Linked DNA regions of Homo sapiens: all the other regions are reported to be linked to region 7. Evidence: microRNA targets listed by miRTarBase, many of them from high-throughput screens and not tested one by one. Region 7 holds a microRNA gene; each other region holds the end of a gene's coding sequence.

The links. Region 7 holds the annotated microRNA hsa-miR-4257 (CCAGAGGUGGGGACUGAG, at 1,290-1,307, shown strand). A microRNA usually pairs through its seed, bases 2 to 8, with sites in the 3' UTR of a target mRNA and lowers its output. Matches are read on the target gene's strand: a 7mer-m8 pairs with bases 2 to 8, a 7mer-A1 pairs with bases 2 to 7 and ends in A, and an 8mer does both.
Region 1: the mRNA of NR6A1 is a reported target of hsa-miR-4257. Seed matches in the 3' UTR shown: 7mer-m8 at 2,193-2,199.
Region 2: the mRNA of DCPS is a reported target of hsa-miR-4257. Seed matches in the 3' UTR shown: 7mer-m8 at 2,003-2,009 and 7mer-A1 at 2,533-2,539.
Region 3: the mRNA of HCAR1 is a reported target of hsa-miR-4257. Seed matches in the 3' UTR shown: 7mer-m8 at 2,896-2,902 and 7mer-A1 at 2,574-2,580.
Region 4: the mRNA of CDKN2AIPNL is a reported target of hsa-miR-4257. The part of its 3' UTR that is shown has no 7-base or 8-base seed match.
Region 5: miRTarBase lists EPS15L1 as a target of hsa-miR-4257. The part of its 3' UTR that is shown has no 7-base or 8-base seed match.
Region 6: the mRNA of NIF3L1 is a reported target of hsa-miR-4257. The part of its 3' UTR that is shown has no 7-base or 8-base seed match.

The regions. Positions count from the first base shown.
Region 1 is chr9:124,519,444-124,523,508 of GRCh38, reverse strand. It overlaps NR6A1 (nuclear receptor subfamily 6 group A member 1), which reads left to right. Exons shown (of 10, transcript NM_033334.4): 10 at 716-4,065. The coding sequence ends at 804. Among named protein-coding and RNA genes, the nearest start is that of NR5A1, 14 kb to the right of the region's middle.
Region 2 is chr11:126,345,302-126,349,366 of GRCh38, forward strand. It overlaps DCPS (decapping enzyme, scavenger), which reads left to right. Exons shown (of 6, transcript NM_014026.6): 6 at 46-4,065. The coding sequence ends at 312. The region is part of intron 1 of GSEC (G-quadruplex forming sequence containing lncRNA); the gene reads right to left. Among named protein-coding and RNA genes, the nearest start is that of GSEC, 8.3 kb to the right of the region's middle.
Region 3 is chr12:122,726,003-122,730,067 of GRCh38, forward strand. HCAR1 (hydroxycarboxylic acid receptor 1) reads right to left here. Exons shown (of 1, transcript NM_032554.4): 1 at 74-4,065. The coding sequence ends at 3,297. Among named protein-coding and RNA genes, the nearest start is that of HCAR1, 2.8 kb to the right of the region's middle. RefSeq lists an enhancer at 3,604-4,065.
Region 4 is chr5:134,399,555-134,403,618 of GRCh38, reverse strand. It overlaps CDKN2AIPNL (CDKN2A interacting protein N-terminal like), which reads left to right. Exons shown (of 3, transcript NM_080656.3): 3 at 693-1,554. The coding sequence ends at 704. Among named protein-coding and RNA genes, the nearest start is that of CDKN2AIPNL, 10 kb to the left of the region's middle.
Region 5 is chr19:16,352,292-16,356,356 of GRCh38, forward strand. EPS15L1 (epidermal growth factor receptor pathway substrate 15 like 1) reads right to left here. Exons shown (of 24, transcript NM_001258374.3): 24 at 2,956-3,560. The coding sequence ends at 3,414. Among named protein-coding and RNA genes, the nearest start is that of KLF2, 29 kb to the left of the region's middle.
Region 6 is chr2:200,903,351-200,907,403 of GRCh38, forward strand. It overlaps NIF3L1 (NGG1 interacting factor 3 like 1), which reads left to right. Exons shown (of 7, transcript NM_001369441.2): 7 at 144-575. The coding sequence ends at 328. Among named protein-coding and RNA genes, the nearest start is that of NIF3L1, 16 kb to the left of the region's middle.
Region 7 is chr1:150,550,698-150,554,762 of GRCh38, forward strand. It overlaps MIR4257 (microRNA 4257), which reads left to right and starts at 1,232; the gene lies at 1,232-1,317. ADAMTSL4 (ADAMTS like 4) reads left to right here. Exons shown (of 19, transcript NM_019032.6): 3 at 1,508-1,611; 4 at 1,846-1,903; 5 at 2,201-2,556; 6 at 2,729-3,425; 7 at 3,668-3,770. The coding sequence starts at 1,592. LOC124904417 reads left to right here. Exons shown (of 1, transcript XM_047438226.1): 1 at 1-653. The coding sequence ends at 363. It overlaps ADAMTSL4-AS2 (ADAMTSL4 antisense RNA 2), which reads right to left. Exons shown (of 6, transcript NR_187269.1): 5 at 3,838-4,035. RefSeq lists enhancers at 1-606, 1,096-1,965.

The sequences.
Region 1 (4,065 bases), not on the chromosome of region 7:
AGTTGCACCTGGAGAATTCTGGTTTAATTGGAATGGGGTAGAGCCTGGAGATAATCAGTGTTTTCGAACGGCTCCCCAGGTCACTCAGAGGTACTGTTTGCCAGAAGAAACACAGCCTTAGGTATTTATAAATTATATTAGCACACTGAATGCTCTGAGAAGTCCTTCAATCAAGAAATCTGTAAAGCTCTTTTAACCCTGAGTTTCTCAAATGTATTTGCCTCTTTACCCCTGCTTCTTTTTCCCCTAGTACTTTTATTAACCTATTAAACCATTCTGAAGTGCAATATTTTATAGAATATTACTTAGAAAATCTACCGGGGGTTGAGGGGGTGAAGAAAACAGGACAGAAGTTTTTTGGACTACCTGTCAGTTTCAGCTTCCTTATCTATAAAATGAGGGTAAAAAGTAGTACACAGAAATAGTGTGAGAATTCAACGAGGTAATGCATTTAACCACCTAGAACAGAGTTAAGTATTCCCTGAGTAGTAGAATGATGATGAGTTGGCACCATTACTAGGCTCCCTGGGCACCCAAAGGGGTCTGGATGTTAGGATGTTAGCCCAGTGTGTCCAACCTTTGTGATACTCCTGGCACTTCTCTTGCCCCAGTCACTCAGCAAGGTGATACTCTGCCTCCACCAGCCCAAGGAGGCTGACTTGCCTGTCCACTAGAGTGACCACTGCTAACTCTTCTTCTCCCCCCTTGTTCCCAGGAAAGATGGTGAATGTGCCCCTGGAGCAGCTGCCCCTCCTCTTTAAGGTGGTGCTGCATTCCTGCAAGACCAGTGTGGGCAAGGAATGACCTGTTCCAGGCGCCCTCCTCAGGCCAACCACAGCGTCTTGGGTGGGCAGGACAGGCTCTGGAGGGAAAAGCCAGAGAGACCAAGATGGAGGCTGTGGAGCAGCATTTCCCGTTGCCTCCATAGCAAGAAGAGTTTTTGTTTGTTTGTCTGTTTTTTTAACCTCATTTTTCTATATATTTATTTCACGACAGAGTTGAATGTATGGCCTTCAACATGATGCACATGCTTTTGTGTGAATGCAGCCAATGCATTTTCTTACAGTTTACAGAATGTGAAGATGTTTAATGTTACAGTGTTGTCATTGTTTAGAAATAGTTCTTTTGTATTTTGAGGGAGAGGGTGGGATGGGGCTAAGATGACTATTTCCATAATGTTGACAAAGATGACTACCTCAATGGAAATGGGGGGTGTGGCCATCCCTACTTTTTCCACATTTTCTCAGCAGACTCATACATTTGTCTGTCAGAGAGCAAATTGCCTTTTTTAGCCACAGAATTGCCAGATAAAACGGCACACTGTAAGGGGGCAAAGTGTTGTTAGGAGATTCACTAAGCAAGGTTGGTGAGACGGCAACAGGGTAGGAGGTGAGGATTGAGCCACGTCCTTTCCTTGGAAAGCGTGAAAATTAAGAGAGTAGGGCACAGTGACCATATTTAAGGCAGGTGTCCTTCCACCCAACAAGTCCTAAGGGCAGAAGAATTTCTGTTCTCACACCTTGCTGCCCCCCTTACCCCTGCACCACCATCATTGTCTACCACTGCGAACTTTCCATCTAGGCAAAGTCCTGGCAATCACTTGATCCACAGGACTCGCCTCCCAGCTCCCTCGGGGCCCCCAGCTACCTAGTTTCCTTACCTGGATCTCCTGAGGCCCACCTTCCTCCTTCCCACTCCCTTACACATTTGACTTCCTATTGGCCCTTTGAAAAACCAGCTGAGCAGAATGCCATGTTCTGAAGCCTGGTGCCCACTACTGATTTATTCTCCTTTCACCTTGTTTTCTTCAAAGGGTAGTAGGGCAAGGCCAGACTGCAAAAAGAATAGACACTCCCCTTTTGAAATCTGTTCCTCTCCCCTCCCCTTCCTACCGCACCCTCAGGTCTAAATCCGAAAACTTCAGGCTTTTTTAAACAATGAGAAGGACCATTCACCTGTCTGCTGACCAGAAATGTTGCCCCTAAGTTCTTCTCCAAGTTCTCCTTTTCTCTCCAGAGTGAGACCAGTTTTCCTCAGGGACCCAGGACACAAAGCCCAAGGCCCAGAGTGGCTCAGCTGCCCCTTACTTCAGCAGTGGACTGGCCAGCCAAGGCCTGGAGGGCTGGAGCCAGAAGCACCTGGAAGGGAAGGGGGGCTTTAAACTACCTCAGGTTCCTAATGGCCCGGCTGCTACCTCTGCAGACATGGCCTGGACTCCTTGACCTCTCACTACCTGCCCCACCTTATCCCAGGACGTGTTCCTTACCCTCTTGACTTTGGCCAGCGCTACACCAGGTCTGTCTTTGAACTCTTTCAGGTGCTTGTCCTGCCTACACCCAGGTATCTTTCACAGCCAGTGTGGCAAGCAGACCACTTAGTTGGCTGCATGCCTGGGTAGGTTGGAAGGGCCCACGGCACCTTCTTCTGCCTATTTAGTCAAAGGCTGTTTGCTGTCTCCTCAACTCAACCTAGTAAAGCTACCCAGGAGGGCACCACGTCGTGTGCATACTGGGTAGTCCATGTCTGATTGTAATTGTTTCTTTCTGGTGAAATGTTACGGGTACCAGCAGAGTGATGATTTTGGCCCTTGATGGATCTAAAACTCGGAACATTACTCCTCAATGCCGTTTCCCCAGTTGCTCTGAGAAGGAAGAGACATGTTCCTCAGGAAAAGCTCCAGCTAGCATGTTTTTCACGTCAGTGGGAAGATTCTTGTGTGTTCGTGTGTATCTGTTTATTTCTAAGTTCACGATACTTGTTCCCCTGAATTTTATTTAACCAACTAGATCACATTCTTTGGCCACAGGTCAGACTCTGAGCTGCTTTCCTCCAGATCGGGAAGGAGACACATATCACAGATGCCTTCTCTAAGACAGCTCCTGTGTACAGCATCGTTCTTTGCTGAGGCCTCTATCTGTCCAATTATTATTTTTGAAATTGCTTTTCAAATTAAACATTTTACCCGTTGTGTTGGGTGTCAAAAGAAATTGCTCTCTGATGAGGCAAGAACATGTCTCTCCAACAACGTAGTATTGAACAGAGCAAGTTGTTAATTTGTGGAGTAGGGGAAAGGTTCTGCAAGTTGCCATTGTACAAATCCAGTTTTACAAATGTTTGCAGCAGATTCCACAGAACAAAGAGCCCATTCATTGCCGAGAGCCCTGCAGAATCTCAGAGCAAAGTGGCTGTGTGTTCCGAGCCGGAGCCTGACCTGTGGACCGTCTTTAATGTCTTCTGCACCAGTCCTTTTATGACGTGGGCTTTTTTTAAACAGGGTAAAGTGAATGTGTTGCATTGCAAACTCAGGTATTATGAGGAGAAGGTAGGAGTGTAGCTAGCAGCGTGGAGACATTAGGTCAGCCACTAGATGTATTTGTGAATTTGGTTTGAAGGACACGGAGAAAGGTTGGAGGGGAGGTTTGGTGTGTTTGTTTTTTGCTTTCTTCCCCATAATGTTTGGTTAACAGGTAGCCTTTTTGCGAGTGGAAGGAGAGAAAAGTTGTGCATGTTTTCTCTAATTTCTCTTTCTGCCCTCTCTCTGATCCCCAACCACCAAAAGCACTCACTTTGAGTGAGGATTTTTTTTTTTTTTTTTTTTTTTTTTTTTGAGGCGGAGTCTCGCTCTGTCGCTCAGGCTGGAGTGCAGTGGTGCGATCTTGGCTCACTGCAAGCTCCGCCTCCCGGGTTCATGCCATTCTCCTGCCTCAGCCTCCTGAGTAGCTGGGACTACAGGCGCCCGCCACCACACCCGGCTAACTTTTTTTGTATTTTTAGTAGAAACATTGTTTCACCACGTTAGCCAGGATGGTCTCCATCTCCTGACCTCGTGATCCGCCTGCCTCGGCCTCCCAAAGTGCTGGGATTACAGGCGTGAGCCACTGCACCCAGCCGAGTGAGAATTTTTATGCCATAAAAATACGACTCTGAAAGCTACATGGAAAAGGAGAATCCCACCTCCTTGCACTACATTGAAACATGCAAGCCTTTCCCTCCCTCTCCTTTTTGATGTTTTCTTGTCCCAAGACAAAAGTTTGGCATCTTGGAACTTATTCATGCTCTCTGGCT
Region 2 (4,065 bases), not on the chromosome of region 7:
CAGGCAGCACGGTGACTCCTGACCTGCCTGCCCCTGTCTCATCAGGAGGCCATCCTGCAGCGCTACCGGATGAAGGGAGACCATCTGCGAGTATACCTGCACTACCTGCCCTCCTACTACCACCTGCATGTGCACTTCACCGCCCTGGGCTTCGAGGCCCCCGGCTCAGGCGTGGAGCGGGCCCACCTGCTGGCTGAGGTGATCGAGAACTTGGAGTGTGACCCTAGGCACTACCAGCAGCGCACGCTCACCTTCGCCCTCAGGGCTGACGACCCCCTGCTCAAGCTCTTGCAGGAGGCTCAGCAAAGCTGAATTAACTCAGGCAGAAGAGCACAGATGTGTGGGATTGGGGGAGGAGTGGGGACAAGATTTTTTATCTCCAAGTGAATTTTCTAAAAATGTATTTTATACCGGCTTATTCCTAGTATTGAATAAACTAGCGGGCTCACTCAGTGTGGACAGCGTGGCCTGGGAGGCAGACAGATGGTGGGGGACAGTGGGTGGGTAGAACCTGTGGGAAGGCCTTGAGAATGGTGGAAAGTCTCCAGGTGGTGGTTTCAACTGACAGGTGGGAGCTGCCCTGGAAGGGTGCCGAGGGCCTTCTCCAAGCCCCAGGGCTCACCGTCCGTGGTGGCTTCCTTCTCCCCACTCTGTGCCTCTCCTGTTTGTACAACTTCTTATTCTGCTCCTCCCCATCACCCCTCCTCCTTCCCCTGCCATCCACCTCTCCTTTGAGGAGTTCCCCAAAAAACCAAACTTGGAAGCTTTCAGGAAATTATCTATACAGGTTTCTGATGGCACTTCCTCCTTCCAGCAGTGAGGTCACACCTCCCTGTGAGTCAGTCAACCCTGCTGATAAACTTCTTGTTGACGAGGATAGGGGCTTGGTGCCTGGAAATCGGCGGGTTTTAATAAGAATCAGATTATGCAAGGCCGAAAAGCCTGCCTTGCTCTGTTATTTGGTCAGCGAGTCCCCAGCCTTGAGTTTTTATCTCGGCAGGAAGACAAAACAGACTCACATGAAGCAGCCAGAAGATCAAGTGCAAAACAGTGAATCAGCAAGGGCAAATGATATGGTTGCAGTTGAATACAAAAGCCCGGAGGCGGCTCGGGTTCAAGGCCTATCAGAGGCAGATGTTCAGAGGATCTTGAGACCAGGAAGGGACCTCAAAGCGTCAGAGGCTGATGAGCAGTTAGGCAGCCAACAGGGCTCAAGCGGCGCAGGGACATGGCTTGTATGGGCGGGCACACAAGTAAACACACAGGCTCTCTCCAGCACACAGGACCAAGGCATCATGCTGCCAGAGGGGCTGGTGTTTGCCACTTTGTCAGAGTAGGGCTGTGGATTTTGTGCCTTGCTTGGGAAGCTCTCAGGGATGGCAGGATGGCAGGCTCCTAAGTGACAGCAGGGGGGAAGCTTGAGGCACAGTGGGTGGTCCTTACTCTCCATCCCCTGCCTGAGAACCAGGAAGCCTCATTCAGAGATTAGCCCCTTTACTGCAGGTGGTAGCCCAGGTGCAGCCAACCTGCTTCAGGGTCTCAGGGCCTGCTGTGGACCCCCATGGTCCTGGGAGAGACTCCTTAGAAACAGCAGAATCACGAACATGGTGAAACCCATCTCTACTAAAAAACAGAAAAATTAGCCAGGTGTGGTGGTGGGCTCCTATAATCCCACCTACTTGGGAGGCTGAAGCAGGAGAATCCCTTGAACCCGGGAGGCGGAGGTTGCCGTGAGCCACCGCACTTTGGCCTGGGTGACAGAGCAAGACTCCCTCTCAGAAAAAAAAATTAAAAAAATAGAAACAGCCGGGGAGTGGAGGGTGTGGTCAGAAAGCCTCAGGGACCTGCTTCAGCCTTCAGGGAGTTCAGATGAGGCACAATGAAGCCACTGGCCTCCACTCAGCCATTCTTCCCTGCAGCTCTTTTTTTTTTTTTTTTTTTTGAGACAATCTCGCTCCATCACCCAGGCTGGAGTGCAGTGGCACAATCTCGACTCACTGCAACCTCTGCCTCCTGGGTTCAAGTGATTCTCCTGCCTCAGCCTCCTGAGTAGCTGGGACTACAGGGGTGCGCCCCCATGCCCAGCTAATTTTTGTATTTTTAGTAGAGACGGGGTTTCACCATGTTGGCCAGGCTGGTCTCCAACTCCTGGCCTCAGGTGATCCACCCATCTCGGCCTCCCAAAGTGCTGGGATTCCAGGCGTGAGCCACCGCGCCCAGCCCCTGCAATACGTCAACAGTCCCTAGATTCAGGCAACATGGAGTTGCAGCCAAGGAACTTTGAGGTAGTGACCAATGCAGGGAGGTCTGACAGAGAATCAGCAGGATCCATTTCATGGCCACCACACATCTGACTGACTCCTTCTTGGGCTAAGCAAATACTTTTGTGGGCAGTGACACTGGCAGCTGCTGGGGTCTTGGCAGGAGGTTGGATGGAGGTCTTCTCCCAGAGCAGTGTCCAGCTTGCAGGAATGCTCCCTGCGTCTCAGTTGTGCCCATTCCAGGTCCAGGGGAAAGAAGTGACCCGCTTCCCCTCTGAAAGCAGATGTGGTCCCAACAAGCAAACACGGTCTCCATCTCCAGCACCACAACTGCCACGGAGCAGAGGGAGGCCTCCCTGTGGAGCAGCCCTTCCCTGTGGCCTCAGCCCATGCCCTCCTGCCCAGCCCCCAGTGGTGCTGCTGGAGGGTCTGACTCCACGGGCTCCCGCTGACCTTGCCGTTCCTTCCCCTCATCTCGTAGCGCCTGGCCCCTGGAGGAAGGTGGGTAGGAATTTGACACCGGATAAATAAATGTTTGAGGGGCAAGAGAGATGGGACAGAGTTCACCCAACAGGACAGACGAGGCTGGCAGTCACAGCAGAGGGCAGGCACTCAGGTCTGGAGAGGCAGGGCATGGAGACAGGGACCCACACTCTGGAAGGTTTCTCGACTCCCCCGAGGGGCTGGCCAGTTCTGTCTTCCTTCTGCCCACTCTGTGGGGAGGAGCCTCTCTGGGATAGCGTCCCCTCACTCCTCTCCCAGCCTCGTTTATCTTCACCACAGTACAGAAGGGGGCCCCTCTCCAGGCCTCACCACTTAACTTTTCTTGTACATGGAAAGACAAGCCTCTGCTAGAGGCCTGGCAAGGGTTCCCCTTCAGAGCCAGCCAGTGCTCTGCTGCTGTAATCTCCAGGGACCCTGCCGGCCACGGCCCCCATGCAGCTCCCTCCCTCAATCCAACCCTCTTTGGGCTTATCACCCTCAAGGTCTAGAGTGCACCAGGGTTGGCTGCTCTGCCAAGTCCTGTTGAGACTCCAAAAGCATAGTCTGTCTTTATTAGGGTGACCTTCATATCAGACTCCCAGGTAACTCAAGATGATAGCTTTGCAATATAGTGCCTCCTTTTATTCCTATTTGTGAGTTTCTCCGCTTTCCTCACTAGACTGAGAGGGTCTTGAGGGTAGGAGCTTTGTTTTAGTTATCTCTCTATCCCTGGCCCCTAAGACACTACCTGGCTCAGCAAACCAACCTTTGAGACAAAGCAACATTATAACACTACATTCATATAGCAGATCATTTCATGACCCACATTCTCCTTCCTTTTTACGAAGAAATGGGCTCAGGATGTCTTGTCCAGCATTATGGAGTGAACGTCAGCTCCAGGAAGCAGAGACTTCTGGCCCTTTGTTCACCATTTCCCCAGAACCTAGGGTGGTGACTCACCTATAAGTGCTCAAAAAACATGTGGCGAATGGAGGACCAGAGCTAGGCTCTGAATGAGGCCTCCTGGATCTCACGCAGGGGATGGAGAGTAAGGACCAGCCCCTCTACCTCATGCTTTCTTCCTGCTATCTCGTAAGAGCCCAACATCCTTCTGTCCTGAGCAAGCCACAAGCTGCAGCCCTGCCTTGACAAAATGGCAAATGCCAGCCCCTCTGGCAGCATGACACCTTGGTCCTGTGTGCTGCAGAGTGCCTCATGTGTTGAACTGTGTGCCCTCAGAAGCATGCCATGCCCCCGCTCTGCTGGAGCAGTGGCAGATGTCACCCTTCCTAGATAAATCCTGGACGGCTCCACGACTGGC
Region 3 (4,065 bases), not on the chromosome of region 7:
TATTTTAGCTTTTTTTCCTTGGAGGGCAAAATCCTAGGGGTCCTTTGACCTAGAGTCACACACAGGACACAGATTTGCTTTCAGAATCCATTTTTATTACAATGAAGGAACAAAGGAGCAACAGCCCAGGAGAGAATTCTAAGAATAGAACTAAAAGCAGAAGTGTGTGTTTTCGCAGATTCCTATCAGGAGGATGTATGACTAATGCTGGTAAGAATTCTTGCCTTTACTCTTCCCCAGGTAACTGAGGGGCGGGGGAATTCAGGCATGATAACAGAGGAACAACTTAAGCGCTCTAAACCCCAAAGGAAATGCTTTCTTGCCTCCATTTCTTTATATGTAAAACGTGTTAATATAAGAAGTCATAATATTGAGCACTTACTGCCAGGCGCTATGCTTAATGCTTTACATGCACTTAATCATTCATTCAACAAACATTTACTGAGCACCTGCTATGTGCAGGTCCTCTTCTAGGCATTGGGTATATAACAGTGAACAAAGTTCTGATGCCTCAGGAATGTACATTCATTTAAACTGCCCAATGACACACTGAGGTTGTATTACAGTATCCCTGTTTGACAGACGAGGAAAATGAAGCTACAAATGATTAAATAAAATCTGCCAGGCTGGGCGGGGTGCGGTGGCTTACACCTGTAATCCAAGCACTTTGGGAGGCCGAGGCAGGCGGATCACAAGTCAGGAGATCAAGACCATCCCGGCTAACACAATGAAACCCCGTCTGTACTAAAAATACAAAAAATTAGCCGGGCGTGGTGGTGGGGCGCCCGTAGTCCCAGCTACTCTGGAGGCTGAGGCAGGAGAATGGCGTGGACCCAGGAGGCAGAGCTTGCAGTGAGCTGAGATTGGGCCACTGTACTCCAGCCTGGGTGATAGAGCAAGACTCTGTCTCAAAAAAAAAAAAAAAAATATATATATATATAGATAGATAGATATCTATATATCTCTATATATATCTATATATATGCCAGGCTGGGAGCAGTGGCTCATGCTGGCAATCGCAATACTTTGGGAGGCCAAGGTGGGAGGATTGCTGGAGGCCAGGAGTTTGAGACCAGCTTGGGCAACACAGTGAGTGAGACCTCGTCTCTATAAAAAAAATTTAAAAATTAGCTGAGTGTGGTGGCTTATGCCTGTACTCCCAGCTATTCAGGAGGCTGAGGTGGGAGGAACACTTGAGCCCAGGAGTTTGAGGCTGCAGTGAGCTATGATCATGCCACTCACTGCACTCCAGCCTGGGCAACAGAGCAAGATTCAGTGTCTAAAAACACAAGCTGCCCTAAGATCACAGGCCTAGTAAATGCTTGAGCTGAGATTCAAACTTCGATGCTTCTAATGCTCTATAGCTCGTACTTTTCATCACTAGGCTGCACAGTGCCTCTGAAAAAAGGAATAATAGGGACAGCCTAGAGGGGTGTTTTGAGGCCAAAGAACTAGAAGTTGGCAAAGTTCTTTTTTTTTTTTGAGACGGCGTTTCACTCCTGTGGCCCAGTCTGGAGTGCAATGGCACGATGTCACCTCACCGCAACCTCCACCTCCTCGGTTCAAGTGATTCTCCTGCCTCAGCCTCCCGAATAGCTGGGATTATAGGCATGCGCCACCACACCAGGCTAATTTTGAATTTTTAGTAGAGACGAGGTTTCTCCATGTTGGTCAGGCTGGTCTAGAACTCCTGACCTCAGGTGATCCGCCTCAGTCTCCCAAAGTGCTGGGATCACAAGCGTGAGCCACCATGCCCAACCCCCAGAAGTTGGCAAGGTTCTTAAGTGGGTAGAGTATCCTGGGCATTTGAGAGAGTATAAATTAAGGAGTTGAGAACCATGTTCACCACTTTGTAGCTTGAGAAAGGAGCTAGAGTTGGCCTGGAATGTTTCCCCCTAATTCAGGGCAGGGGCAGCTTGTCATTTCGTAGAGTCCTCTGTTTCGAGGGGTCCAGGTACACATTTGGGAAACTCATGTGTATGAGGGAGTCTTGCAATAAGAGGACAAAACTGATGTTCACACAGAATCGGTCTAGAAACTGTATTCCGTGAAAGGATGAAAGCTCTTAACTTCTCTGTCCCCACCCCCCCAAAAAACTTTACTGTCACATAAGAGTTGACTAATGACCCTCCACTAAAAATTACACAGTATACTGCCTGCCACCAAATACGAATTCAGTAAATACTTGGAAAATAAGTGAATAATTTCAATTCACAGTCACATGACAAGTTGTCAAAAGCAATTATAAAAGCAATTGTATTGGACTCAGCACATCCCACTGGAGAAGCCAGGGCAAGGAAACAGATCCCTCAGCACCTTCTTTGAAATACAAAGATTTGAAGAAGGTCAGAGCAGATTGTTTTGTTGTTGTTCTTCTTGGGCTACCAGGAAGTCACAATGATGACAGACGTACAGATGTACATTTGGACAAAATGTACAGATGTACAAAGAAATGTAAAGATGAAAATTGATAGATCAATAGATCCCAATCTAAAGAGCCTCATTCGGCCTGAAATAAAGCATTGATTGACTGAGCCCGGTTTCTGTTTTCTGAGATAAGGAATGATTTAAGGTCAGAGGATAGGAAATGCTGCTAACTGCCCCATAGCCCCTAAGAGAGTGAACATGCCCCATTCAAACACATATACCCATTTACTTAGCCATTTAAAATGACACAGGGGAGGCCAGGCACGGTGGCTCACGCCTGTGATCCCACCACTTTGGGAGGCCAAGGCAGGCGGATCACCTGAGGTCAGGAGCTCGAGACCAGCCTGGCCAACATGGCAAAACCCTGTCTCTACTAAAAATACAAAAATTAGCCGGGTGTGTTGGCTGGCGCCTCTAATCCCAGCTACTCGGGAGGCTGAGGCAGGAGAATTGCTTGAACCCGGGAGGCAGAGGTTGCAGTGAGCCGAGACTGTGCCACTGCACTCCAGCCTGGGACACAGAGTGAGACTCTGTCTCAAAACAAAAACAAACAACGAAAATTACACAAGGGCTGTGCAGTTCCTAGCCCCCCTCCCAACACACACATGCTCCACTCCATGCACATTCTGTCCCCTGCCATTGTGATCAGATAAGAAAATGCAGCCAACTCACTTCAATCAACTGGAACCTCCCCAAAAGGTATAGTTGTGTGAATTTCATTTCCGACAGAATGAGAAGGATGCAGTTCATGTGCGAGAAGCCGTCTTGCAATAAGAAAGGGGGGTGGCATTTTCAAAGCCCCCGACCCCTTAGCACGAGTTAATTCTAAGTCACCACTCTATCTTCCTCAGTGTTGTTGGTCTGCTTGTTCAGTGCCACTCAACAATGTGGGGATCCCATTGCCCATCAGACTGGCTTTGGAAACTATTTGCCACACTGATGCAACTCCTGCGACCGAGGTTCGAAATTGGCATCTCTTCCGGCCTTTGTGTTTTTGAGTGTCCTGGCTGCTTGGGTTTCAGACTGCAGATTTTGAGCTTGTTGTAGAATTTGGGAAAGGAGGGGCTTGAAAAATAATACACCAGGGGATCCAGCATGCTGTTCATGTAGGTGAAGCTGAGGGTTATGTGCAGGGCCCCATGGACAGAGGGATCGCAGGCACTCGAGGGCACCGTCCAGAGGAAATAGAGTCTAGCAGACACGCTGGGCAGGTAGCATGTGATGAACACAATTGCCACCACCATGATGAACCGGGTCGCCTTCTTCATCCGAGCCTGTCTGGCCAGCTGCTGCCTCCGCCTCAGGCTCCAAACAATCTTGAAGGAGCAAAATAAGATGATGCCGAGGGGCATAAAGAACTCCAGCTGGAACATGATGTCATGCCAGCCATTGGCCGACTCCATGATGAAGCTCTCACAGGAGACGGCCGTCTCTTGCACGCAGAGATGGTTCTCCAGCAAAAGATACACTGTTCCCAGGATGACCAGGGCCCACAGGGTGCAGACGATGCCAGCCGCCACCCGGGTGGAGATAGTGTTCACCGCGTGGTGGGGGTGGACCACTTTGAAATACCTGTCCGCAGCCACCACCGTAAGGAACACGATGCTCCCGGCCCTGTTCATGGCCAACGTGAAGAGC
Region 4 (4,064 bases), not on the chromosome of region 7:
GGTCTAACTAGGAAATAGGTCATACCTTGAAATCTCTGATTACTAAAAAGACTCTCAGATTGATTCACTTGCACTGCTAAATGTTAAGGAAATTCATTCAAATACAAGGTGACAGCCAAAGTGATTTTTTCACACCCTGTTTAAAAGTTGTCTAAAGCCAAGTTTAAATTTACCAAAGGTGCTAGAGAGTAACCAGAAAGAATAGCTCTGCTTCATTTCACCACTATTTGAAGACAAGCTTTTACAGTTTCTAATAGTGTGAAATCCAGAAATATATAACCTTCACATCTAAATATCCTGACTCAATGTGAAATGTTGTGAATTACTACCTGAACTGACTGCTTTTAATTTAGAACAATAAGTGTTTGTGTGACTCTGCTTTTAGAACCTTTCACTGCAAAGCATGCCAGAAAAAGTTGTATTTTAAGCATTTCCATTATCACTTTAAATTGTGAACATTTATAGATTGCAAGTGACAAGACAGGAAAATCAAGTTCTGGCTTCCAAATGGATGCTGTGGTCAATGTTTTGCTGAATTTTCTGTATGTTGTAAAATATTAATAATTTCTGAGTATACTTACTGTCTGGATAGTACATAAATATTACATCACTGCTATATTTTAATTTATGAAGATGAATTTGATTCACTGGACTACATGGTTATGTAACCTTTTCTTTTCTTTTTTTCCCAGCATCAAAGCTAAGCCAGAAGATTTATCACATTTTCATCATCAGCTACAGGATTAGAAAGGAGGCTGGGATGAATGTGACATAGACCACAGCAGCTCTCTTAAGACTCCTGGTATTACCAACATAAAGAGGCAGGTGGAATGAGAAGGACTCTGTCTAGATTGGCTTTTTTAACATTCTCATTTTCCCAGGAGTTATCACTGTAAAAGTATGCATGGATATTTATGTATTTATAAATCATGCACTCTAAGATGAGTTCATCAACATTGTAAAAGCCCTCTTTTCTGTTTTCAGGTTTTTTTTTTTCTTATCGACAAGGTCTCACTCTGTCGCCCAGGCAGAAGCACAAAGGTGCAGTATTGGCTCATTGCAGCCTCGAACTCCTGGGCTCATATTTTCAGGGTTTTTTGTTTTTTGTTTTGTTTTTTTGAGACAGAGTCTTGCTCTGTTGCCCAGGCAGTAGTGCAGTGGCGCGATATATTTTCAGTTTTTAAACGTCAGAATTTTTGTTTAAAATGCCTTTTTGGGCTGGGCACAGTGGCTTATGCCCATAATAATCCCAGCACTTTGGGAGGCCGAGGTGAGCAGATCACCTGAGGTTAGGAGTTTGAGACCAGCCTGGCCAACACGATGAAACCCCGTCTCTACTAAAAATACAAACAAAATTAGCTGGGCATGGTGGCGGACATCTGTAATCCCAGCTACTCAGGAGGCTGAAGCAGAAGAACTGCTTGAACCTGGGAGGTGGAGGTTGCAGTGAGCCAAGATCGCACCATTGCACTCCATCCTGGGCGACAAAAATGAAACACCGTCTCAAAAAAAATAAAAATAATAAAATAAAATGCCTTTTTGTTGTTGATGTAATAATGGCAGGTAATTAATTTTATAGTTTAGATTTTTCAACAATGTACCTTTAAGTGCGATTCTCTTTTATGGCCTTTTTCTTCCCCCACCAAGGCAAATCAGATCCTTTAATTCCTATTTCCACCTGAAATTTATACCATACCTATACCATACCCAACTACCACACATACTCATCCTTTTTTAAGAAATGAGAATCAAATCATAGACTTGAAGTACCCACCAGCTCACGGGAAGAGGCAGCCTACCAAAAAGCATCTGGCCTTAGTTTAAAACGAATTGACACAGGATTCCGGGGCTTCGTCCGGTCAGCCAGTTGATTTGTAAATTCTGTCTCCCAGACTGCTTTTCTGGAGGAAGCCTGAGGCTTGGGTCTTCTAGACTTGAGGAGCCACCTTGCACATAGCCTCTTAAGAAATACTTGTTGCAGTCCTGCTTTGCTCTGTGATTTTGGTCTTAATGTTCCTCAGCTAAGTGTCTGTTCTGTACCCCCTCTCTGCTCCTCTTTCTTGTTTAGTCCCCACCATTAAGGAAATAGGTCTAGGCATAAATACTGGGAGAGGGGCTTCATTTGGGAGGCAGTAGTGTAAGTTTATTACAGGAGGGGTCACTCAACAGTGGTAGGCACTGTGCTTGGTACTAGTGATAGTGGCAAATAAGAGACATTGGACCCTGCAGGCCGGGTGTGGTGGCTCACACCTGTAATCCCAGCACTTTGGGAGTCCAAGGTGGTCAGATCACAAGGTCAGGAGTTTGAGACCAGCCCAGCCAACATGGTGAAACTCTGTCTCTACTAAAAATACAAAAATTAGCTGGGTGTGGTGGCATGTGCCTGTAATCCCAGCTATCCAGGAGGCTGGGGCAGGAGACTCGCTGGAACCCAGGAGACAGAGGCTGCAGTGAGCCGAGATTGCACCACTGCACTCCAGCCTGGGCGACAGAGCAAGATTCTTGTCTTTTTTTTTTTTTAAAAAAAAGAGGCCGGGTGCGGTGGCTCATGCCTGTAATCCCAGCACTTTGGGAGGCCGAGGCAGGCAGATCACCTGATGTTGGGAGTTCGAGACCAGCCTGACCAACATGGAGAAACCCCGTCTCTACTAAAAATACAAAATTAGCCAGGCATGGTGGCACGTGCCTGTAATCCCAGCTACCAGGGAGGCTGAAGCAGGAGAATCGCTTGAACCTGGGAGGTGGAGGTTGTGGTGAGCTGAGATCGCGCCATTGCACTCCAGCCTGGGCAACAAGAGTGAAACTCCATCTCAAAAAAAAAAAAAAAAGAAAAAAAGAAAATGCATTTTCCTAATTTGAGTAGGAAGCTATGAAAAAAAGAGAAGAAGAAAATGCATTTCCATAGGTTTGTCATCGTGAATTCCATTTCTTTATATGATATGAAGCCCTGATAAAATAATAATAGCCTTTCAGGAATGCATCCACTGCATAAAGCAAGTTTAAATTGTGGAATGACTTCCCTTCAATTGCTTTTATTTATTTTTGTTTTTTCAGAGCCGGGGTCTCTCACTCTGTCACCCAGGTTGGAGTGCAGTGGTGTAATCATAGCTCACTGCAGCCTCAAACTCCTGGTCTCAGGTGATCCTCCTCCCAAAGTGCTAAGAATACAGGCAGGAGCTACTAAACCCAGCCTCCTTTAGTTTGTTTTTGAAGACTTCCTAGTTAATCAAAATCAAGTTTCAATTTTCTAATAGGTTTTCTCTCATTGTTTCCTCACTTAAACTGCTTTTCTTCTCATCTTTTACAATTTCTGTGGCTATCTCACATATAAAATTAACCAGTATTTTAGAATTTCATCTTTTATTTCTGGAATAGAAAGTGGCAAAGAAATCTAAATGTTTGCATTTCAGCAATACTTGTGGTATAGATAAAATGGCCCACTGTCAGCCTTGAAACAGTACCTTCTATCACATAGTTCATATACAGTCTTGCTGAAGACTTGGAGTGAAGATAGAGTGAGATCATAGGAAGGGACAAGTAATAAATAGGAGGAGAACTTTTTTTTTTTTTTTTTTTTTTTAAGATGGAGTCTCTCTCTGTCGCACGGGCTGAAGTGCAGTGGCGCTATTTCGGCTCACTGCAACCTCTGCCTCCCAGGTTCAAGCAGCTCTCCTGCCTCAGCCTCCCGAGTAGCTGGGACTACAGGCATGCGCCACTATGCCCAGTTAATTTTTGTATTTTTAGTAGAGACAGGGTTTCACCATGTTGGTTGGCCAGTATGGTCTCGATATCTTGACCTTGTGATCTGCCTGCCTTGGCCTCCCAAATTGCTGGGATTACAGGTGTGAGCCACCACGCCTGGCCTGGAGAACTTTTTTTTTTTTTTTTTTGTAAATCCAAACTACACCTAGAAAACTGCTTTCTGAAACATTCCTTAGTCTGTGGCTCACCTAATAATCCTCACTCAACCTTATCAGGAGGTAAGGATTCTGTCTGAACTCAGGATCCATTTGGATCGGTGGCCTACCTATGGGCAATGAGAGGAATCATATTAACTGTCACTG
Region 5 (4,065 bases), not on the chromosome of region 7:
TGCCCTGCCTGTATGTGGATTTTCTTCCACCTCTGCCACCCCAAGACCAACCCTTCCTCCTCCTCCTCCTCGGGTTACTCAATGGGAAGATGATGAGGAAGAAGACCTTTATGATGATCCACTTCCACTTAATGGATGGCCAATATTTTTTCTCTTCCTTTTCCTGAGGATTTTCTTTTTTTGTTTTTGGAGATGGAGTCTCGCTCTGTTGCCCAGGCTAGACTGCAGTGGCACGATCTTGGCTCACTGCAACCTCTGCCTCCCAGGTTCAAGCGATCCTCCTTGTCTCAGCCTCCTGAGTAGCTGGGATTACAGGTGCCTGTCACCACGCCTGGCTAATTTTTTGTATTTTTAGTAGAGATGGGGTTTCACCACATTGGCCAGGCTGGTCTCGAATTCCTGGCCTCAAGTTATCCTCCCACCTCGGCCTCCCAAAGTGCTGGGATTACAGGCATGAGCCACTGCTCCTGGCCTTTTTTTTTTTTTTTTTTTTTTTTTTGAGACAGAGTCTTGCTCTGTCACCAGGTTGGAGTGCAGTGGCACGATCTCGGCTCATTGCAACTTCTGCCTCCCGGGTTCAAGCCACTCTCCTGCCTCAGCCTCCCGAGTAGCTGGGATTACAGGTGCCCACTACCATGCCCAGCTAATTTTTGTATTTTTAGTAGAGACGGGGTTTCACTGTGTTGGCCAGGATGGTCTCAATCTCCTGACCTCTTGATCCACCTGCCTTGGCCTCCCAAAGTGCTGGGATTACAGGCGTTAGCCACCACGCCCGGCCCTGTATTTTCAATCTCATGAATTACTGCCCTGAGACGAGTCTATGTAACAAAATATCTGAGGCTGAAAAACTGCTTTTTAAAAATAAATCTACCTGAGGCCAGGAGTTTGAGACTAGCCTGGCCAACATGGCAAAACCCCATCTCTACTAAAAATACAAAAAATTAGCCAGGCATGTTGCCTAATGCCTGTAATTCCAGCTACTTGGGAGGCTGAGACAGGAGAATTGCTTGAACTTGGGAGGTGGAGGCTGCAGCGAGCTGAGATCACACCATTGTACTCCAGCTTGGGTGACAAGAGTGAAACTCTGTCCCAAAATAAAATAAAATAATAAATAAAAATAAATCTATGTCCAGTGGATCCAGGTCAACACCAGCCTTCTAAGTCATGTTGATGACATGGATCTTTGATGTGATTTGATGTCAATACACTTCATCTCTGTGGTCTTCCTCCCCCAAGTCCAGCTCCACATCTAGTCACGGGAAAAACATCAGACAAATCCCAGTGGAGGGACATTCTACAAAGCACCTGACCAGTTCTCCTTGTAACTGTCATCAAAAACACACAACGTTTGAGAAACTCACACAGCCCAGAGAATTCTTTTTTTTTTCCTTGAGACAAGAGTCTCACTCTGTCGCCCAGGCTGGAGTGCAGCGGTGTGATCTCGGCTCACTGCAACCTCTGCCCCCCGGGTTCCAGCGATTCTCCTGCCTCAGCCTCCTGAGTAGCTGGGATTACAAGCGCCTGCCACTGCGCCCGGCTAATTTTTCTATTTTTAGTAGAGACGGGGTTCCACCCAGCCCAGAGAATTCTAACGAGATGTAAGGTCTGAATGTCATGGGGGATCCTGGGACAGAAAAAGGACATTAGGGGGAAAAACGAATTTTTTTTTTTTGACAGGGTCTTACTCTGTGGCCCAGACTGGAGTGCAGAGGTGCGATCTTGGCCCACCACAACCTCCACCTCCCAGGTTCAAGCGATTCTCCTGCGTCAGTCTCCCGAGTAGCTGGGATTACAGGCATGCTCCACTACCACCCGGCTATTTTTTGTGTATTTTTAGTAGAGACGGGGTTTCACCATGTTGGCCAGGCTGGTCTTGAACTCCTGACCTCAAATGATCCACCTGCCTCGGCCTCCCAAATGGCTGGGATTACAGGTGTGAGCCACCGTGCCCTACCTGCATTTTTTTTTTTAGACGGTGTCTTTCTTGTCGCCTGGGCCAGAGTGCAATGGCATGATATTGGCTCACTGCAACTCCACCTCCTGAGTTTCAAGTGATTCTCCTGCCTCAGCCTCTCGAGTAGCTGGGATTACAAGTGCGCACCACCACGCGCGGCTAATTTTTGTGTTGTTTTTTTTTAGTAGAGACAGGGTTTCACTATGTTGGCCAGGCTGGTCCCCAACTCCTGACCTCAAGTGATCCCCCCCACCTCGGCCTCCCAAAGTGCTGGAATTACAGGCATGAGCCACCGCACTCAGCCAAAAAAACAGAGCAATTCTGAATAAAGTAAGGACTCTAGTTAATAATAATGAATCCGTATTGGTTCATTAATTGGGATGTAAGTAATGTGTAATGTAAGATGTTAAAAATAAGGTAAACTCTCTAAGGGGCTTATGGGAACCCTTCGTATTTTCTTTGCGATCTTTCTGCAAATTTAAAACTGGCCAGGCACAGTGGCACATGTCTGTAATCCCAGCCCTTTGGGAGGCTGAAGTGGGAGGATCACTTGAGCCCGGGGAAGTGGAGGTTGCAGTGAGCTGAGATCACACCACTGCACTCCACCCTGGGTGACAGAGCTCAGACCCTGTTTCAAAAAAAAATTTTTTTTAAGGATAAATTGTCTAAGGGGCTTATGGGAACTCTTTGTATCTTTGTGATTTTTCTGCAGGTTTAAAACTGTCCTAAAAAATAAAGTTGGTTAAAACATAAAAATGGGCAGGGCTTGGTGGCTCACGCCTGTAATCCCAGCACTTTGGGATGCTGAGACAGGAGAATTGTGTGAGTCAAGGAGTTTGAGACCAGCCTGGGCAACATGGCAAGATCTCATCTCTTAAAAAAAAATTTTTTTTAAAAGTAAAAACTTAAGATTTAAAGAGCAATGTTCCACCTGGTTGATCTGCTTCCTGATACCCATGCAGGGAAAACAATGTTTACAGAGATTAAAGAAGCTTCTCTTGTTTTGTATTAAAATATTTTATATTAATCATTCAAACTTCATTTTATACAACGAGTGCATACACCACTGGGGGAGTGTCTGACTGATGCGTGGGAGGGCGGGTGGGGATGTCTGCAGCTATGAGTAGGGAGGAGGCGGGGAAGCCCTGGGTGCTTCCTCTCCTCGACTGACCGCTGTGTGTTCGTCCCCAGAGGAAGAGCGGGAGGCAGTCAGCCCCGGGGGGGATGGCACAGTGGAGAGACGGACCTGCAGAAGTGGTGGCCAAGGCCTCTGTAAGGGCTTCCCCAGGAGATGTGACCTTTCCAGGTCTTGCAGCCGAGTCTGCTCACCCTGAACAAGCCCCCGAGTCCCGGTCCTTGGAGTACGGTGGCGACGGTGTGTGTGTGTATATATAGACATCTGCACTGCCCCCTCTCTGGAACCCGCCCGTGCCCTGTCCCGCCTACACACGGCCCTCGCCTAGGCGGCAGGCATGTCAGCCTTGCTGAGCGCGATGGCCAGTTCCAGGTCCTCCTGCTCCTGCCGCCGCAGCCGCGCCAGCCTCTCCTGTTCCGCCTTCTCGCTCTCCCGCTTGGCCCACGCCAGCTGCTGCTCCTCATTGCCAAACTGCAAAGGAAAAACGGAGAGTGGGTGATGTGGCCCTGGGGCTGGGACCTGCAAGCTGGAGGGAGGCAGGGAATGCGTGGGAGGGGTCAGGGTCCTGCCCACCGCCCAGCGGAGGGTCCGATGTGCAGGGGATAAGCATGTCTTGGCTGGGCCCAGTGGGCGTGCGAGCCTGTCTCAGGCCCCCCATCTGGAAAGCAGAGTGGACGGGATGCATGTGATTGAGTGTGACCTTAACCATGACCTCTGGGCCTCAAAGAAACCAGCCACCCCGCCCCACGCAGAGAAGTGAGGATGGGCCCTTGACGCTGGTGGCCAAGAGGTGCAAAGATGGGGAACTTCCAGCGTGCATGGCTCTAAAGCCCCACGGCGCAGACAATTCTGCACTCTGGGAATGTGGTATTTCTACCTCCAGCCATGCTCCAGAGAGCTCTGAGACCCTCTGAGGGTCATTTTCTTTTTCTTTTTCTTTTTTTTTTTTTGAGATGGAGTCTCGCTCTGTCGCCAG
Region 6 (4,053 bases), not on the chromosome of region 7:
TTTCTAGATTTATATGTAAAACAGTTCTGCTCTATTACATTCACTTCATATAGACTACAAACTTGGTATTTCTGCTTTTGTGTTTCCTCATTCCACAGATTCCATATTTAGCATTTAAGAATTTGCTCTTCCCTTTTTGGTAGGTGAGATGTCCCATCATGATACTTTGGATGCTGCTTCCCAAGGAATAAATGTCATCCTCTGTGAACACAGCAACACTGAACGAGGCTTTCTTTCTGACCTTCGAGATATGCTGGATTCTCACTTGGAGAATAAGATAAATATTATCCTATCAGAGACTGACAGGGACCCTCTTCAGGTGGTATAATTGCAGAAACATCAGGATAACACATTCTACAAATCAGCTGGATGCCAACTTAAATTTGTAACATGAGTCAGTGGGACTGGTGTGCTTCCAGAGAGTGTCTTCGAGGGTATCATCATTTCCGGTTTGTTAATCTTATTCACCAAATGTTCTATCGCTCGTAAGGTAAAACTGTAATATAACTACCATATTAAATAACAAATGTTCATTATAAACTCTAGGAAAGATTGAATAAAATCTGTTTACTTAACATTCTTTGGAAGGAGCTCAAGTGATTCTGTCCTTAGTTTAATTGTAGATGGGATGGATCCATTTGGGTATCTCTGCCCTTGGTTAGTTAACATTATGCTTGAAAAACTTGGGCTTGAACACTTCTAGGTAGTAGCCTTTTTGCAGTGATAAGAAGTTCTGTTTGTCCTTGTTCCTAGTTCTGCCTACATTCCAGTCTCTCACCTAAATTTCAGAATCAGAATGAGATTTATCAGGATGTTGTTTTGAAAATATGTATACACAATCATTATTCATATTACTGTTACTTTATTGCTTTTTAGATGACTTACCTGTAATTTTTTTTTCTTCCACAGTCCTTTGTTCCCGATTTCTGCTCTGTCACTTCCCTCTCCTGGCAATGAACTTGGCTGCCGCAGGCAGGGGGCAGGGCCAGGGAATGAAATTCCAGAGCAGAAAGAACAAAGTCAGATATCTCAAAATATCATCCTGCCCCATTTAATCTGGGCCTTTTATCCATGTGGATGCCCCTTTCTAAACAGCACCTGCGCTGGGCTGCGAGGCCCCTGCCTGCCTGCTGCTGGTTGGGCAGGGCAGATACACCTTTCTCCACCTGAGGACTGCGTTCTCAGGTAATCTGGCTAAAGCAATATTCCCTCCATTTTAGGCATTCTTAGATTGCTTTTATGATTTGTGCTATTTTACCATACCACATGTAATTTTTACTTCATGCTTTTGTGTAAAGCAACTTTTTCTCTTTTTGTTTATTTTTTATTGTGGTAAAATTCACATAACATAAAATTCGCCATTTTATTTTCCTGCCCCCCCCTTCCAAAATTCACCATTTTAAAGTATACAATTCCGTAGCTTTTAGTACATTTACAGTGTTGTGGTACTGTTACCACTACAGTTCCAAAGCATTTTTCATCACCACAGAGGGAAGCCCCCATTAAGTAATAATTCCCTCCTCCCATCCCCTGGATCCTATTTCTATGGATTTGTCTATTTTGGATATTTTCTATAAGTGGAATCATAAACATGTGGTCCTTTGTGTCCGGCATCTTTCACTTATGTTTTCTCCATTACTGCCGCCTTTTGTGTTTGATTTTTTTTCTAGTATTTTGACTCCCTTATTTCCTTTTAAGTATCTATTTTATCTTCTTACCTATCTTTAAAGGAAATTTTATGTGACATCCATTATAACTTAAATATTTACTTAATCTATATTAAATACAGGATTATTAAAATACAAAGGAACACTGCTCAAAAGAAATGTCATTTTTTTTTAATGTCATTTTTTTTTTTTTTTTGGAGACGGAGTCTCACTCTGTTGCCCAGGCTAGAGAGCAGTGGCATGATTACAGCTCCCTGCAACCTCTGCCTCCCGGGTTCAAGCGATTCTCCTGCCTCAGCATTCCAAGTAGCTGGGATTACAGGCACACGTCACCATTCCCAGCTAATTTTTGTATTTTTAGTAGAGACGAGGTTTCACCATGTTGGTCAGGCTGGTCTCCAACTCCTAGGCTCAGGGGATCCGCCCACCTCATCCTCCCAAAGTGCTGGGTTACAGGTTGAGCCACCGTGCCTGGCCTGAAATGTCATTTTTAAGCTTAGTGTCTAATGACATGTTTTGTGTTGTTTTGCTGATTTAATAAATAAGGCCAGATACTGACATGAAACAGTGGTTTAGTAATCCCTTATCTACTCCAGAAAGCTGAAGGCTGAGGAAGGACATGCACATTCCCTCACAGGTGTCACATGAAAAATCTTCCCTATCCTGTAGGACTTAAAAGGTCGCCTTGGATGCCCACATGGACAATACATTCCAGGTGGAAGGTTGCAGATTGTAGGGAATAGTGTCACCACCTTTGTTGTGCATCCATGACACCTTATATAATCTCTTGTGCACATGTATTAGAGGGTGCTCCATACCAATCTAGATCAGGATCCAAATCAGACACTAGTGCAGGAAAGAAGTGAAGCTGGCCAGGAGGTGGCAGCAACAGTTCAGCCCAAGGCAAGTGCTGCTGGGCAGAATGAAGGTCCAGCGTGGCCAAGTCTTCCTGATCTTTCAGGGGCAAAGGAAATCTGGATTTTTAATATGTGGGGTGTTAAAATATACATATATTATCATATATAAAACATACATATATACATGTTTCTGCACAGTTCCTGGCTTATAACTCCTCTAGCCCTTGTTACAGTCTTTTAGGTGTGTTAAGCCTCAGGGGCAGGCCTCAGGAAACAATCTCTCAGAGTTCTCCTGCCCTCCTTTCACCAGTCCCAAAGCAAAATCCTAATCTCCCTCCTTTTTCTTTTTTATTTAGAGACAAGGTCTTGCTCTGTCACCCAGGCTGGAGTACAGTGGTGTGATCATAGCTCACTGCAGCTTCAAACTCCTGGGCTCAAGTGACCCTCTCTCCTCAGTCTCCTGGGTAGCTGGGCCTACAGGCACCTGCCACCACCCACCCCCTACTGACTAATTTTTTCAAATTAAAAAAATTTTTACTTTTGTAAAGACCGGGTTTTGCTACACTGCCTAGGCTGGTCTTGAGCTCCTGAGCTCAGGGAATCCTCCTGCCTTGGCCTCTCAAAGTGCTGGGATTACAGGTGTGAGCCACTGAGCCTGGCCGTTTTTTTTTTTTGAGACGGAGTTTCACTCTTGTTGCCCAGGCTGGAGGGCAATGGCGTGATCTTGGCTCACCACAACCTCCGTCTCCCGGGTTCAAGCGATTTTCATGCCTCAGCCTCCCGAGTAGCTGGGATTACAGGAATGTGCCACCAGACCCAGGTAATTAAGCATTTTTAGTAGAGATAGGGTTTCTCCATGTTGGTCAGGCTGGTTTCAAACTCCTGACCTCAGGTGATCCGTCCTCCTCGGCCTCCCTAAGTGCTGGGATTACAGGCGTGAGCCACCACACCCGGCCTTATTTTTTTTTATTTTTTATTTTTTGTGAGACAGAGTCTCACTCTTTCACCCAGGCTGGAGTGCAGTGGCACGATCTCAGCTCAATACAACCTCCGCCTCCCAGGTTGAAGCAATTCTCCTGCCTCAGCCTCCCAAGTAGCTGGGATTACAGGCATTCGCCACAATGCCCAGCTAATTTTGTATTTTTAGTAGAGATGGGGTTTCACCATGTTGGCCAGGGTAGTCTAGAACTCCTGACCTCAAGTTATCCACCTGTCTCAGCCTCCCAAAGTGCTGGGATTACAGGCGTGAGCCACTGTGCCAGGCAAATGCTGCCATTTTAAGACCTACACTTTGGGTACCAAAGGTAAAGATGTTGACCCTAAATACTTGGGAAGCCTGGGGCCAGTGATAAATATAAAAATTGGTATGAAAATTTAGTAATGAGCTTTGTATTGTACTCATGCTTAAAGTTATATTTTCCATAGCATCAGTCTTTTCAAATTTGCCTTATTCAACACATTAAGGATGCTACAACTTATGCTATTAAAACCTCATAGGCTGGGTGAGGTGGCTCACACCTGTTAATCCC
Region 7 (4,065 bases):
GTCAGGGTGGAGTTGCTGACCTTAGTGGCCGGCCCAGCCAGGGGAAGGAGTGGCCATCGGCAACCCCCACCCCAACCCCAATCCCTGAGGCGCCCGCTCTGGCTCAGCCACTCTGACCCCTCCCTCAAATTCCGAACCCTAGGTCTCAGGGAGGGCAGTGGGGCTGAGTGTCTGCCCCCAGGCACATTCCTACCCTTCTCTTGGTCATTTTCTGCCCCAGAGCTGGCCCACCTCAGCAATGCGAGGGCTCCCTGGATTCCTCTCCCGGGTGCCTTTCAGATCCAACAGAAACAGATTTTTTTTTTCCTGGAAAGCAGAACTAAGAGTGGGATGAGGAGCAGGGGTGGGAAGGACTCAAAGTGAGAAGAAGGGGGCAAAGAGAGTCAGGCTTGGTGGCTGGGGTGGCTTCCAAGCCTCACTTCTCCAGTGTTCAAAGCTGAACTTCAGATGGACTTCCCGGCTCTTCAGAATGAGAGGCCTGTGGCTGGGGCATGAGGCAGCCCCGGCTGCACCTCTCCTTCCCGCTTCCCCAGCTGGTAGAGACGCACAGGAAACAAGCCCTCACTGAACCAACTCCAGATGCTGGCACCCAGAGTGGGTGTTACATTGCCGGCTTCTTCTCTAGAGATTAAACCGTCAACCCATTTAGCTTATCCCTTGGCCAAAAAGTGTATGAGATGTGCCTGGATGTTCCCTAAAGAGCTTATCTAAGAAGGGAAGAGAAAGCCGGGAGGCAAGTAGGACAGAGAGATGACTGGGGAAGGTCTTGTGTCTGGAAGACCCAAGGAAGGGGCTTCTGGTGGGTCCTCAGAGAGAGTGTCTGGCGCATCCTCAGTGGAGCCTTCCTCCTCTACTTTCTAGGCACCTCTGGGAGGGCAGGAGTGGGAGCAGATGACAACCATTTTAGAAGGAGCCCTCTGGCTGGGTGCGGTGGCTCACACCTGTCATCCCAGCACTTTGGGAGGCCAAGGCAGGAGAAGCGCTTGAGGCCTGGAGTTCAAGACCAGCCTGTGCAATTTAGCTGGATCCCATCTCCACCAAAAAATACCAAAATTAGCTGGGTGTGGTGGTGCACGCATGTAGTCCCACCTACTCAGGAGGCTGAGGAAGGAGAGCCTGTGAGTTTGAGGCTGCAATGAGCTTTGGTGGCACCACTGCCCTCCAGCCTGGATGACAGAGTGAGATCTCCATCTCAAAAAAAAAAAAAAAGCCTTTTGTGTGTGCCTGAGCCGGCTTAGAAACAGTCCCTAGGTAGGATTTGGGGAGGAGCTAAGAAGCCCCTACAGGGCCCAGAGGTGGGGACTGAGCCTTAGTTGGAGGGCTGAGGTCAGCCCCTGACCATGTAGCCTCTACAGATGGACAAGGCAGTGATCCTCCCTGCTCCCACCCTGAGGATCCTAAAGGGATGGACCAGTTTCACCCCCTCCTCCATATTCTCTGAGCTGTCCTCCCAGCCCCAAGCTCTCTGGACACTGGAGAGGTAACCACCAGGCTTCTGTCCCTGCAGAGAGCACCCTCCACGCCCAGATGCCTGCGTAGTTTTTGTGACCAGTCCGCTCCTGCCTCCCCCTGGGGCAGTAGAGGGGGAGCGATGGAGAACTGGACTGGCAGGTGAGAGAAGGGGCCACGGGTTGGGGGGGAGGAAAAGGGGAGGTGCTGGGATGGCTCTGTGTCTGGAAGTGAGGGAAAGGGGACCACTGGGAGGGGCAGGGGAAGTGATGAGTAACTTCTGCTTTCTGAGAAGTTGGTAGTCAGGATATGGGAGCCGGCTGGGGGCGGAGGGCAGTGTTGCAACACCCCCTCTGGCTCCAGTCTGACGTCCCTCCCCTGGCCTTTGGTTTGCAGGCCCTGGCTGTATCTGCTGCTGCTTCTGTCCCTCCCTCAGCTCTGCTTGGATCAGGAGGTGAGTTCTGGACAAGTGAGCAGCTGCAGCCTGCCTGCCACCCTTTCATCTCCCCCTAGGCTCCCACCCCATCTCTCCAGGCCACGCCTCCATTCCCCACAGCCCACCCACCTCCCCTGCCAACTCCCCAGTTCCTTGCCTCATAACACCAAGAGGCCGAGGTGTAGTTCTCCCTCTGCTGCTGAATGTGACCTTGGACTGGTAGCGACTCCGTGAGCCTCAGTGTTGGTCTACATGGACACTCTGGACAGTTCCCTCTAATCCTTCCAATTCTGTCTGACCTTTTTCTCTATATAGGTGTTGTCCGGACACTCTCTTCAGACACCTACAGAGGAGGGCCAGGGCCCCGAAGGTGTCTGGGGACCTTGGGTCCAGTGGGCCTCTTGCTCCCAGCCCTGCGGGGTGGGGGTGCAGCGCAGGAGCCGGACATGTCAGCTCCCTACAGTGCAGCTCCACCCGAGTCTGCCCCTCCCTCCCCGGCCCCCAAGACATCCAGAAGCCCTCCTCCCCCGGGGCCAGGGTCCCAGACCCCAGACTTCTCCAGAAACCCTCCCCTTGTACAGGACACAGTCTCGGGGAAGGGGTGGCCCACTTCGAGGTCCCGCTTCCCACCTAGGGAGAGAGGAGACCCAGGAGATTCGAGCGGCCAGGAGGTGAGAGGCCTGGGTGGAAGAGGTGGGCCTTGGGCAAGGTGGGGGCTTAGCATGAAGGAAAGGGGAGCACGGGTGGCTTCAGAGGGCTTGTCTTTGGTGCCAGGAAGTAAACTGGGGAAACAGGGTCAGAGGTGGTCAGAGCTGTGCCCCCACATCTGAAACACCTTCTCAGGTCCCGGCTTCGAGACCCCATCAAGCCAGGAATGTTCGGTTATGGGAGAGTGCCCTTTGCATTGCCACTGCACCGGAACCGCAGGCACCCTCGGAGCCCACCCAGATCTGAGCTGTCCCTGATCTCTTCTAGAGGGGAAGAGGCTATTCCGTCCCCTACTCCAAGAGCAGAGCCATTCTCCGCAAACGGCAGCCCCCAAACTGAGCTCCCTCCCACAGAACTGTCTGTCCACACCCCATCCCCCCAAGCAGAACCTCTAAGCCCTGAAACTGCTCAGACAGAGGTGGCCCCCAGAACCAGGCCTGCCCCCCTACGGCATCACCCCAGAGCCCAGGCCTCTGGCACAGAGCCCCCCTCACCCACGCACTCCTTAGGAGAAGGTGGCTTCTTCCGTGCATCCCCTCAGCCACGAAGGCCAAGTTCCCAGGGTTGGGCCAGTCCCCAGGTAGCAGGGAGACGCCCTGATCCTTTTCCTTCGGTCCCTCGGGGCCGAGGCCAGCAGGGCCAAGGGCCTTGGGGAACGGGGGGGACTCCTCACGGGCCCCGCCTGGAGCCTGACCCTCAGCACCCGGGCGCCTGGCTGCCCCTGCTGAGCAACGGCCCCCATGCCAGCTCCCTCTGGAGCCTCTTTGCTCCCAGTAGCCCTATTCCAAGATGTTCTGGGGAGAGTGAACAGCTAAGAGCCTGCAGCCAAGCGGTGAGTCTCCTCGGGCCTCCCCTCCCAACCCCGACCTCCAGTGTGGCTTCCCTGCCCTGAAGCTGGGTCTTCAGCTTCCGCTTGGCACCTGAGGGAGAAGGGCCTTGGCATCTGACCACCTCAGGGCAGGGGTCTTGGAGCTCTTCCGCTGACCTGAGCCTCCCACCTGCTCCCCAGGTTCAGCCCTGCCCCTACCCTCATTTTGCTCCCCAGCTCTGACTCCTTTGTACCCCTCACCGCAGCCCTGCCCCCCTGAGCAGCCAGACCCCCGGGCCCTGCAGTGCGCAGCCTTTAACTCCCAGGAATTCATGGGCCAGCTGTATCAGTGGGAGCCCTTCACTGAAGGTGAGGTTTCTTGCTCACCCCTGGGCAGTGGTGGCTTGGAATTGGGGATGAAGGGGAGAGGAGATACCTGCTTACTCCCAGCCCTGAATGACTTCCAGCCCCTCTGCTTCCCCTGCGCCATGCCTTCTTTCTTCTCCCTGGGGCTGGGTCAGGAGACAGCACAGGTGGTGAGTGGTCTGCAGAAGGGTCGGGGTGGGAGGAGGAGGTGTGGGAGACACGCTTTGTCCGGACTCCCCTGGGAAGGCCATCACTGGGGGTCAGGTGGCTGTGACACAAGAGGGCCATGGTGGGAGAG